2 linked regions of the Homo sapiens genome follow. The protein of the gene in region 2 purifies or fractionates together with the protein of the main gene of each other region. This does not show direct contact. Each region holds a gene or a part of one and is shown on either strand. Other genes may lie near its edges.

Region 1 (4,007 bases), on a different chromosome or scaffold from region 2:
GTCAGCTAGCTTTTTGTACTGCACGTGATGACCTCCAGCACTTGCTGCCAATGCCTTAGCTTTGTCAAGTGCTTCTGGACCAGTGCATGTCTCCAATGTTATTCATTTCTTAGTTCGGAGACATCGACATCCTCATTGATAACTTGCTCTGGTTTCTGGACAGATAATTGCAATCTTTTTTGTAGGAAAGAAATATTCTGTCTTGCAATATCCAGAAACTTGTGTATACACCGATCAACACCAGTTCCAATTTCTTCCTGATTGCTGCCATTGACATAGTCCTGACTTAACGGAGAGGCAAAGCAAGTCTGGAAAGATGACTCCATGTCATCCACCAAAGTACTGTTAGAAGGTCTCAGAGGCCCTGGAGCTGCTGGTAAGTAAAGGAAGCCTGGCCCCAGAGCCCCGGTGGTGGTTGGGGCCCCGATGGCTGCCCAAAGAACATACTGCCTAGCAAAGCAGCCATGCCTGGAATAATTTTTTTTTCTTATTTTTAGTAGCGATGAGGTGTCACTATGTGCCCAGGTTGGTCTTGAACTCCTAAGCTCGAGTGATCATCTCATCCCAGCCTCCCAAAGTGCTAGGATTACAAGTGTGAGCCACCACATCCGGCCTTTTCTACATAATTCTAAATATGGCTTATAGTCTTCTTCCTCCCTCTTCATATTGCCAATTTTTGTTAATATAAATTATTATTTTTAATAATTGTGTACTGTTCTTCTGTTTGGATGTAACGGAATTTAATCATATTCCTACTGACATTTATATTGTTTTCCTTTTCTTTGCTTTTTGAGACAGGGTCTCACTCTGTTGCACAGGCTGGAGTGCAGTGATACAATCTTGGCTCACTGCAGCCTTGACCTCCTGGGCTCAAGCGATCCTCCTGCCTCAGCCCTGCGATTTTCCTTCTTTAATAATCAACACTGCTGTGATAAACATCCATGTTCACCTGTCCCAATATTATTTTAACTTTTTAAAGTATTTTTCTTTTTTTCACCCCTTCTTTTCACAGGTGTTGACCAATATTACTTTAGAATATTGATGTGGATTTTGTTGTTGTTGAGAAAAGGTCTTGCTCTGTCACCCAGACTGCAGTTGCAGTGGCATGATCATGGCTCCTCCAGGGGCTCAAGTGATCCTCCCAGCTCAACCTAGCCTCCCCAGTAGCTAAGACTACAGGCGTGTACCACCATGCCTGGCTAGTTTTGTGGGTTTTTTGTTTTGTTTTGTTTTGTTTAAGAGACAGAGTCTCACTTTGTTGCCCAGGCTGGTCTTGAACTACTGACCTCACGCCATCCTCCCACTTCGGCCTCCCAAAATGCTGGGATTACAGATGGGAGCCACTGTGCCCTGCCCAGATTTATTTAAGAAACCAAGTACCATATAAATGGGAAACAAAAAGTATTATAAGAATTCAAAGGTAGGAGGGAGAGATCAGTTTGGCCCAAAATGGTCCCAAGAAAGTTATTAATACTAAAGGAAGTGATTCTTGAGATAGGTTTTCAAGAATGGGGAAGAATTCCCTAAGATGCAAACAAATGAATTTGGTAAGAAAGGAAGCTGCAGATTTTGGACATTTTATTTTGAATTAAGAATGTATTCCGAGCCAGGCACAGCGGCTCAGGCCTGTAATCCCAGCACTTTGAGAAGGTGAGCCAGAAGGATCACTTGAGTCCAGGAGTTCAAGACCAGCCTGGGCAATATAGTGAGACCCCCATCTCTACAGAAAATTAAAAAAATTACCAAGAATGGTGGCATGCGCCTGTGGTTCCAGCTACTATGAAGGCTGAGGCAGGAGGACTGCTTGAGCCCAAGAGGTGGAAGCTGCAATGAGCTATGATGGTGCCACTTAACTCGAACCTGGGCGACACAGTGAGACCCCATCTCTAAGAAAAAAACAAAAACAAGACAAAACCAAAAAAGAATGTACTCCGGTCATTGTCATTTCCTTGAGACGTTAAGATTTAAATTACTTTGGATTTTCTTAACAGAATGAACAGGAGTTGGACTGGTGGAGAGGAAAGCGCATGACGATGTAGGAGGGTCTCGGACACCAATGCATCGCCACGTCTAAGTGAAGCAGCAGCAAGCGATATTGGTGTGGGCGACGAGGGTGGACACGGAGTCTGGGGACGGCCGACTGTGGGAGATCTAGTTACAAGGCAATAAGTCCATAAGACTGGCTTTTTTGAAGACCACAGACGCTCTTTGGGACTCAGTCCAGAGCTACAAAAACGTGGGGACGAATTGCGCCTTACAACGTCTGCCCTTGGCCTTGGCAGGGGCTCCTCCCCATCCCTCGCCATTTGCCAACAGGGGCCGGCCTGGCCGGGCTCGCTCTCACCTGCGCCTGGATGCAGAGAGAGATGCAGTCGTGCGAGAGCCGGTACCTGCGCAGCAGCCGCAGGCATTTCACCAGGTGCTCCTCCCCCGCCGACAGCTCCTCCGTGTCGATGTGGTTCACCCCGAGGTGGAACTCGATGACTGCCAGCCTCACCGCTCGCTGGGCGACGGGCCCCTCGGGCTCCACCACCTCAGCCGGCAGCCCCAGGGCGTGGTCACCGGCACCCGGGCCGTCCTCGGCCTCAGGCCGCTCATCCTCGTCCTCAGGCGCAGGGCCGAGCAGCGCCTTGACCTCTTCCAGTAGCGCCCGGGCGCTGTATTTGGACTTGTATGGTTCCTTCTCCGGATTTTTATGCAGTTCCACCCGCGACAGAGCGAGCGCCGCCTGGAATTTCTCGCAGACCTCTGCCCACGGAACGTTCGCCATAGCGGCCTCTACTGCCTGGCTTTCCTCAATGTTTGCAGTCGGGACTCCCGCCTTCCTTCTGCTTTGCGACACTTTACTTACGGCTCTCGACACGTTGCGGCCGCTGTGGAATGGGAACCAATATAACCCTCCCGGAGAACCGCAATACGCTCGGCAATGACCAATGGGAAGACGCAGCAATCACCACAGCAACCATTCTCATGGAAATGAAGTTGTCAATGAGCGTGTTCCCACCTCCTTCCCCGCCCCCTGCAGCGGTGAGTTTATCTCCAGATTGACCCTGTGAGGATGGATTTATATAAATGTTTAATATCGGCTTACTTTAACGAAGCATATCGGAATATTGTTTACAAACATAGCTAGCTAACTCTACTCGCGTTGATATGAACTGAAAGGCAAAAACCTTTAGACATTAAGTGTATAGCCCAGCCTGTCACTGGATAAAACTTTTTTTAAAAAAGGCCAGGCGCAGTGGCTCATATCTGCAATCCTAACATTTTGGGATGCCAGTAACATTTTGGGATGCCCACTGGAGTGGGCAACATAGCAAGACCCATCTCTACATAATTTTTTTTAAAAAATTAGCCGGGCGTGGTGGCGCGCGACTGTAGTCCCAGCTACCATGGAGGCTGAGGCGGAAGGATGGCTTGAGCCCAAGAGGTGGAGGTTACAGTGAGCGAGACTGCCTCAGAAAAAAAGAAAACACGAGCATTAGAACAAATACCTAATGTATGCGGGGCATAAAACTTAGCTGACAGGTTGATAGGTGCAGCAAACCACCATGGCACATGTATACCTATGTAACAAACCTGCATGTTCTGCACATGTATCCCAGAACTTAAAAGTAAAATAAAAGAAAAAAAATTGAAATGTAGCCAAGAGCTGATTATTATCATTGACACATAATCTCTTGATCGAGAGCCATAAATATACAAAACACTCAGTGATAGACAAATATTTTCACTTCGACCCTGAAATACAGGTTGTAGGAATCTGTACAACTGCCCAAGGTAACAAGAGCTAAGTCCCACAGCTGTGAAAGCCGCCTCATGCCTTTTACCTTCCTAAGTTATCAAGTCAAATGGGGAGGGGTGATAGAAGATTTTAACTATTAAGCACCAGCTGTGTACAGTGCTTTGAGACATACAAAGGAGCATTGATTTTGGGAGCTCATAGACATATGGTTTGAACCTCAGACCAACCAGCTTTCTTATTGACAAGTTAACTTTTTTAAGCT
Region 2 (3,919 bases):
TGCGCACCTCACACACACACAGCGCACGATCACGTGGCCTGCACCTCACTCACACAGCACACGATCACGCGGCGCGCACCTCACTCACACAGCGCACAATCACGCGGCGCGCACCTCACACAGCGCACGATCACGCGGCGCACACCTCACTCACACAGCGCACGATCACACGGCGCGCACCTCACACAGCACACGATCACGCGGCGCGCACCTCACACAGCACACGATCACGCGGCGCGCACCTCACAGCACACGATCACGCAGCGTGCACCTCACACACAGCGCACGATCACACCGCGCACCTCACACACACAGCGCACGATCACGCGGCGCGCACCTCACTCACACAGCGCACGATCACGCGGCGCACACCTCACTCACACAGCGCACGATCACACGGCGCGCACCTCACACAGCACACGATCACGCGGCGCGCACCTCACACAGCACACGATCACGCGGCGCGCACCTCACACAGCACACGATCACGCGGCGCGCACCTCACTCACAGCACACGATCACACCGCGCACCTCACACACACAGCGCACGATCACGCGGCGCACACCTCACACAGCACACGATCACGCGGCGCGCACCTCACACAGCACACGATCACGCGGCGCGCACCTCACTCACAGCACACGATCACGCAGCGTGCACCTCACACACAGCGCACGATCACACCGCGCACCTCACACACACAGCGCACGATCACGCGGCGTGCACCACACACACAGCGCACGATCACACCACGCACCTCACACACACACACAGCGCACGATCACGCGGCGCGCACCTCACACAGCACACGATCACGCAGCGTGCACCTCACACACACACAGCGCACAATCACACCGCGCACCTCACACACACACAGCGCAGGCACCAAGGAGTTTTGCCTGGTATATTCGGTTGCTGCTAAACATTCCTAGGAAGTTGAGAAGGTTCATCCTTGCTGATCGGTGATTGAAATTCAGCAACATCCCTGTGGCTCTGCAGTGTGTGCCAAGGTCAAATCAAATCATAACGACGTCCTCAATCACCTCCCTGTAAACCGGGTGCCAGCCAGGCCCGTGCTCACACTTCCTGAAACAAGTTCACCATCTGTGCCACCGATGCCAGACAGAGCTCCCTGCGACTCCGAAACGTGTTTCTCACTTCCCACAAGGGAGCCACTCTCCAGGAGCAGCTCCTGAGCACAAGGGCTACGGCTGGGGCTGGGGCAGGCTCAAGCATTCGTGCTGAGTTTCAACAGCCTGTGTGGCGAGCAGCTACTGCGGGACAGCACGTCACCTGGATGCTGAGACGGCGGAACAACATGAAAACATCCACCATGCCAGAAACGTCAGCCCACAGATGCTCCTAGAGGAAGATGCAGCGGACACGAAGGGCGGTATGAGAACAGGAGAAACACAGACAGCTGCCGCCACCACCGGCTCACACGCAGCCTCCGACATGAAAAGAAAGTGCTTCAAGAGCTTCCACTCCACTGGTCTGGCTTCCCTTCAACCAGAAAGGGGGCACAGGCACCCAGCAAGAGCCTGTGCTGGTGACACAGAATGTTCTTTCTAGAGCCCAGGGGACAGCCCCATCCTCTGAGCTGGTCACAACTGATGTCACCTTTTCCTTCTTGAAGGGACATGCCAGGATGCAGGGGAACAAGTTAAAAAGCTTTTCCTAATTTGAGGTGAGAGACACCACTGACCGCCACGATCAGCAACTTAGCGTCGCCTCCCCCGGTCTCATCTTCTTGGCATGCCCGTCGGGCCCAGGCGGGGGACTCCGGCGCCGCTGCTTCTTCTCTAGCTGCTGCTGCAGTCTCTCCTCTTTCTTCTTCAGGTAGGAGGTCACGTTGTCGAACGTGGCCTTGTAGAGACTGCTGAAGCTGGCGTCTGCGCCGGCAGAGCCTGTGATGGGGGAACAAGGACAGGTGCCAGGTGGGGCAGGAACATGGGACTCGGCCACCACAGCGGGCCCCCTGCAGCAGGGAGTTACCTCGTGACTCCCAGAGTCCTCGGTGGACCGTGGGGGGCGCCTTCTGGGACGGCTCCCCACGGTGCCCACCTCCTGGGACCCACACCCTGGCTGGACCTGAGGACTGGCTACTAACAGAACGGGGCAAAGATGAAAGAATGTAATGGAAACCAGGGCACCAAGGCTGGGCCTCCACCCCGCCAGCACTCTCTGCTTGCACGCCCGGAGAAAGCCACTACTGCACCATGAGCCGCCCTGTGGAGGGGCCCAGGTGGCAGGGGACCAGGAGCAGCAGCCTCTGGCCAACAGCCAGAGAGGCCCCCTGTCCTGCCGACAACCCAGACTGAGTGAAGTCGGGCCCTGCCTGGTGAAGCTGAGATGGCCACCTGCAGAGACACAGCTCAGCTGAGTCCGGACCCCTGACCCACAGCAACAGTGAGACAGTAAGGGTGGGGTGCCTTAAGGCATCGAGTGTGGGATAGCATGTTCTGCCGCCACAGGGAATGGACACGGATTTCATCTACTTTATCTAAGTGCCAAGGATTGGGGGCAATGACTGACCACAGGCACACGGAGACAGCCTCAGCCTGGCCAGGAAACCACAGGCCCAGCCGGTAACCCGCGCACCAGCGACTGCCTGAAGCCTGCCCATCCAGCAGGTGGCGCAGCCTCCCCGCCCCTCCAGCGACTCTGCTGCTTGTGGGACACTCTAGCAGCAGCCCTCCCCGGTCCCTCTCCCAACGCAGGCCCCCAAGTCTGCGCCGGGAACAGGCTGCTCTATCTATGGAACATCTCAGGAGAGCGAGCCCAGGCTTTGGCCTGAGACTGTTGTGCAAGGTGACACTCAACAGGTCTATGCTGTCCGTGGCCTAGAGCACGGGGGCCATGAGCACTGCAGATGCCCGGCCATGAGCACTGCCGCCTGCAGTCCCTGACACAGCCAGTGACAGGCCCACTCTGAAGTGTTCCTAAAGCAGATCCCAACCACGCTGGGGGGCCCAACCCTGCCCGTCTCAACCCTCAACATCCTAAGCAAAGCAGGAGGGAGAGAAGCCTCAGAGGCAGAGCCAGCGTGCCGCCACTCGGGGAGCCTGGCAGAAGGCGGCTGGGCCCCAATCAGCGGAAACTCCTCCGACCTCAGTGTGAATCCCTCCAGAGCTCCAAGGAACCTCAGTGCTCACTGCAGTGGGGTTTAGCTTTGCAAGACTTCAGAGCAGCAACTTCTTGTCGTGAATGAGGCACCTGGATTCCATGCTGGGCTAATCCATCCTGCAGACACCATCACCTCCAAGACTGCAAGGTGCTGGCACAACGACGCACCCAGAACTACAGTGTGTCGTGTCCCCAGAAGGCAGGGTAGAAAATGTTCGTCCAGCTCCTCCCTCAGCCTGGCTGCTCTCCTTCCTGCAGCCGCAGCCACGGGAGTTGCTGGCTAGATTCCCTCCCCTCAGCTGAGTGTTCCTGTCAGGACAGTGACCATCCTGCCCCTGCTCAGCCTCCTGAAGACCCCCGGGGCCTCTGGCTAGACCCCCACTAAACCTCCCAGTGAGGCCCTGCACTTACTGACGCCCACTGCAGTGGGATCAATTCCCTCAACACCATGGACCAGGCATGAGGCAGCACAGCACCAGCTCCCTCTGGGAGCCACCAGCTGCCAGCCCTGCCCTGGGGACCTTCAACGCCCAACTCTGAAGGCAGGTGCTCAGACCCTGAGCCCCCGGTTCCTAAGTGGCTCTCGTTAGCCTGACTCCCATGGGGGGCTCCTTCTTCTGCTGTGCGTCACCCACCTCCTGCCCTGCCCCGCCTTCTGGATGGGGACACACGCTTACTCTCCCTCTTTATCTGCACACCAGGTACCCCGGGCAGGTCACAGTGTGTGCTTCTGCTTTCTCTGGGGACCGCGCTGGGTGTGACCCCCAAGGGCAGCCTGCACCCGTGCTCTCA

Evidence for each region.
Region 1: the proteins of WDR4 (region 2) and KIFBP fractionate together in Homo sapiens (co-fractionation; one large-scale study listed by BioGRID). This does not show direct contact.

The regions. Positions count from the first base shown.
Region 1 is NC_000010.11:68,987,596-68,991,602, reverse strand, and holds the start of KIFBP (KIF-binding protein), read right to left. Parts: upstream 2,801-4,007; 5' UTR 2,771-2,800; coding exon 2,345-2,770; intron 476-2,344; exon of another isoform or gene 1-475. UniProt on the Homo sapiens protein: Activator of KIF1B plus-end-directed microtubule motor activity. Required for organization of axonal microtubules, and axonal outgrowth and maintenance during peripheral and central nervous system development.
Region 2 is NC_000021.9:42,848,335-42,852,253, forward strand, and holds the end of WDR4 (tRNA (guanine-N(7)-)-methyltransferase non-catalytic subunit WDR4), read right to left. Parts: intron 1,909-3,919; coding exon 1,715-1,908; 3' UTR 892-1,714; downstream 1-891. UniProt on the Homo sapiens protein: Non-catalytic component of the METTL1-WDR4 methyltransferase complex required for the formation of N(7)-methylguanine in a subset of RNA species, such as tRNAs, mRNAs and microRNAs (miRNAs).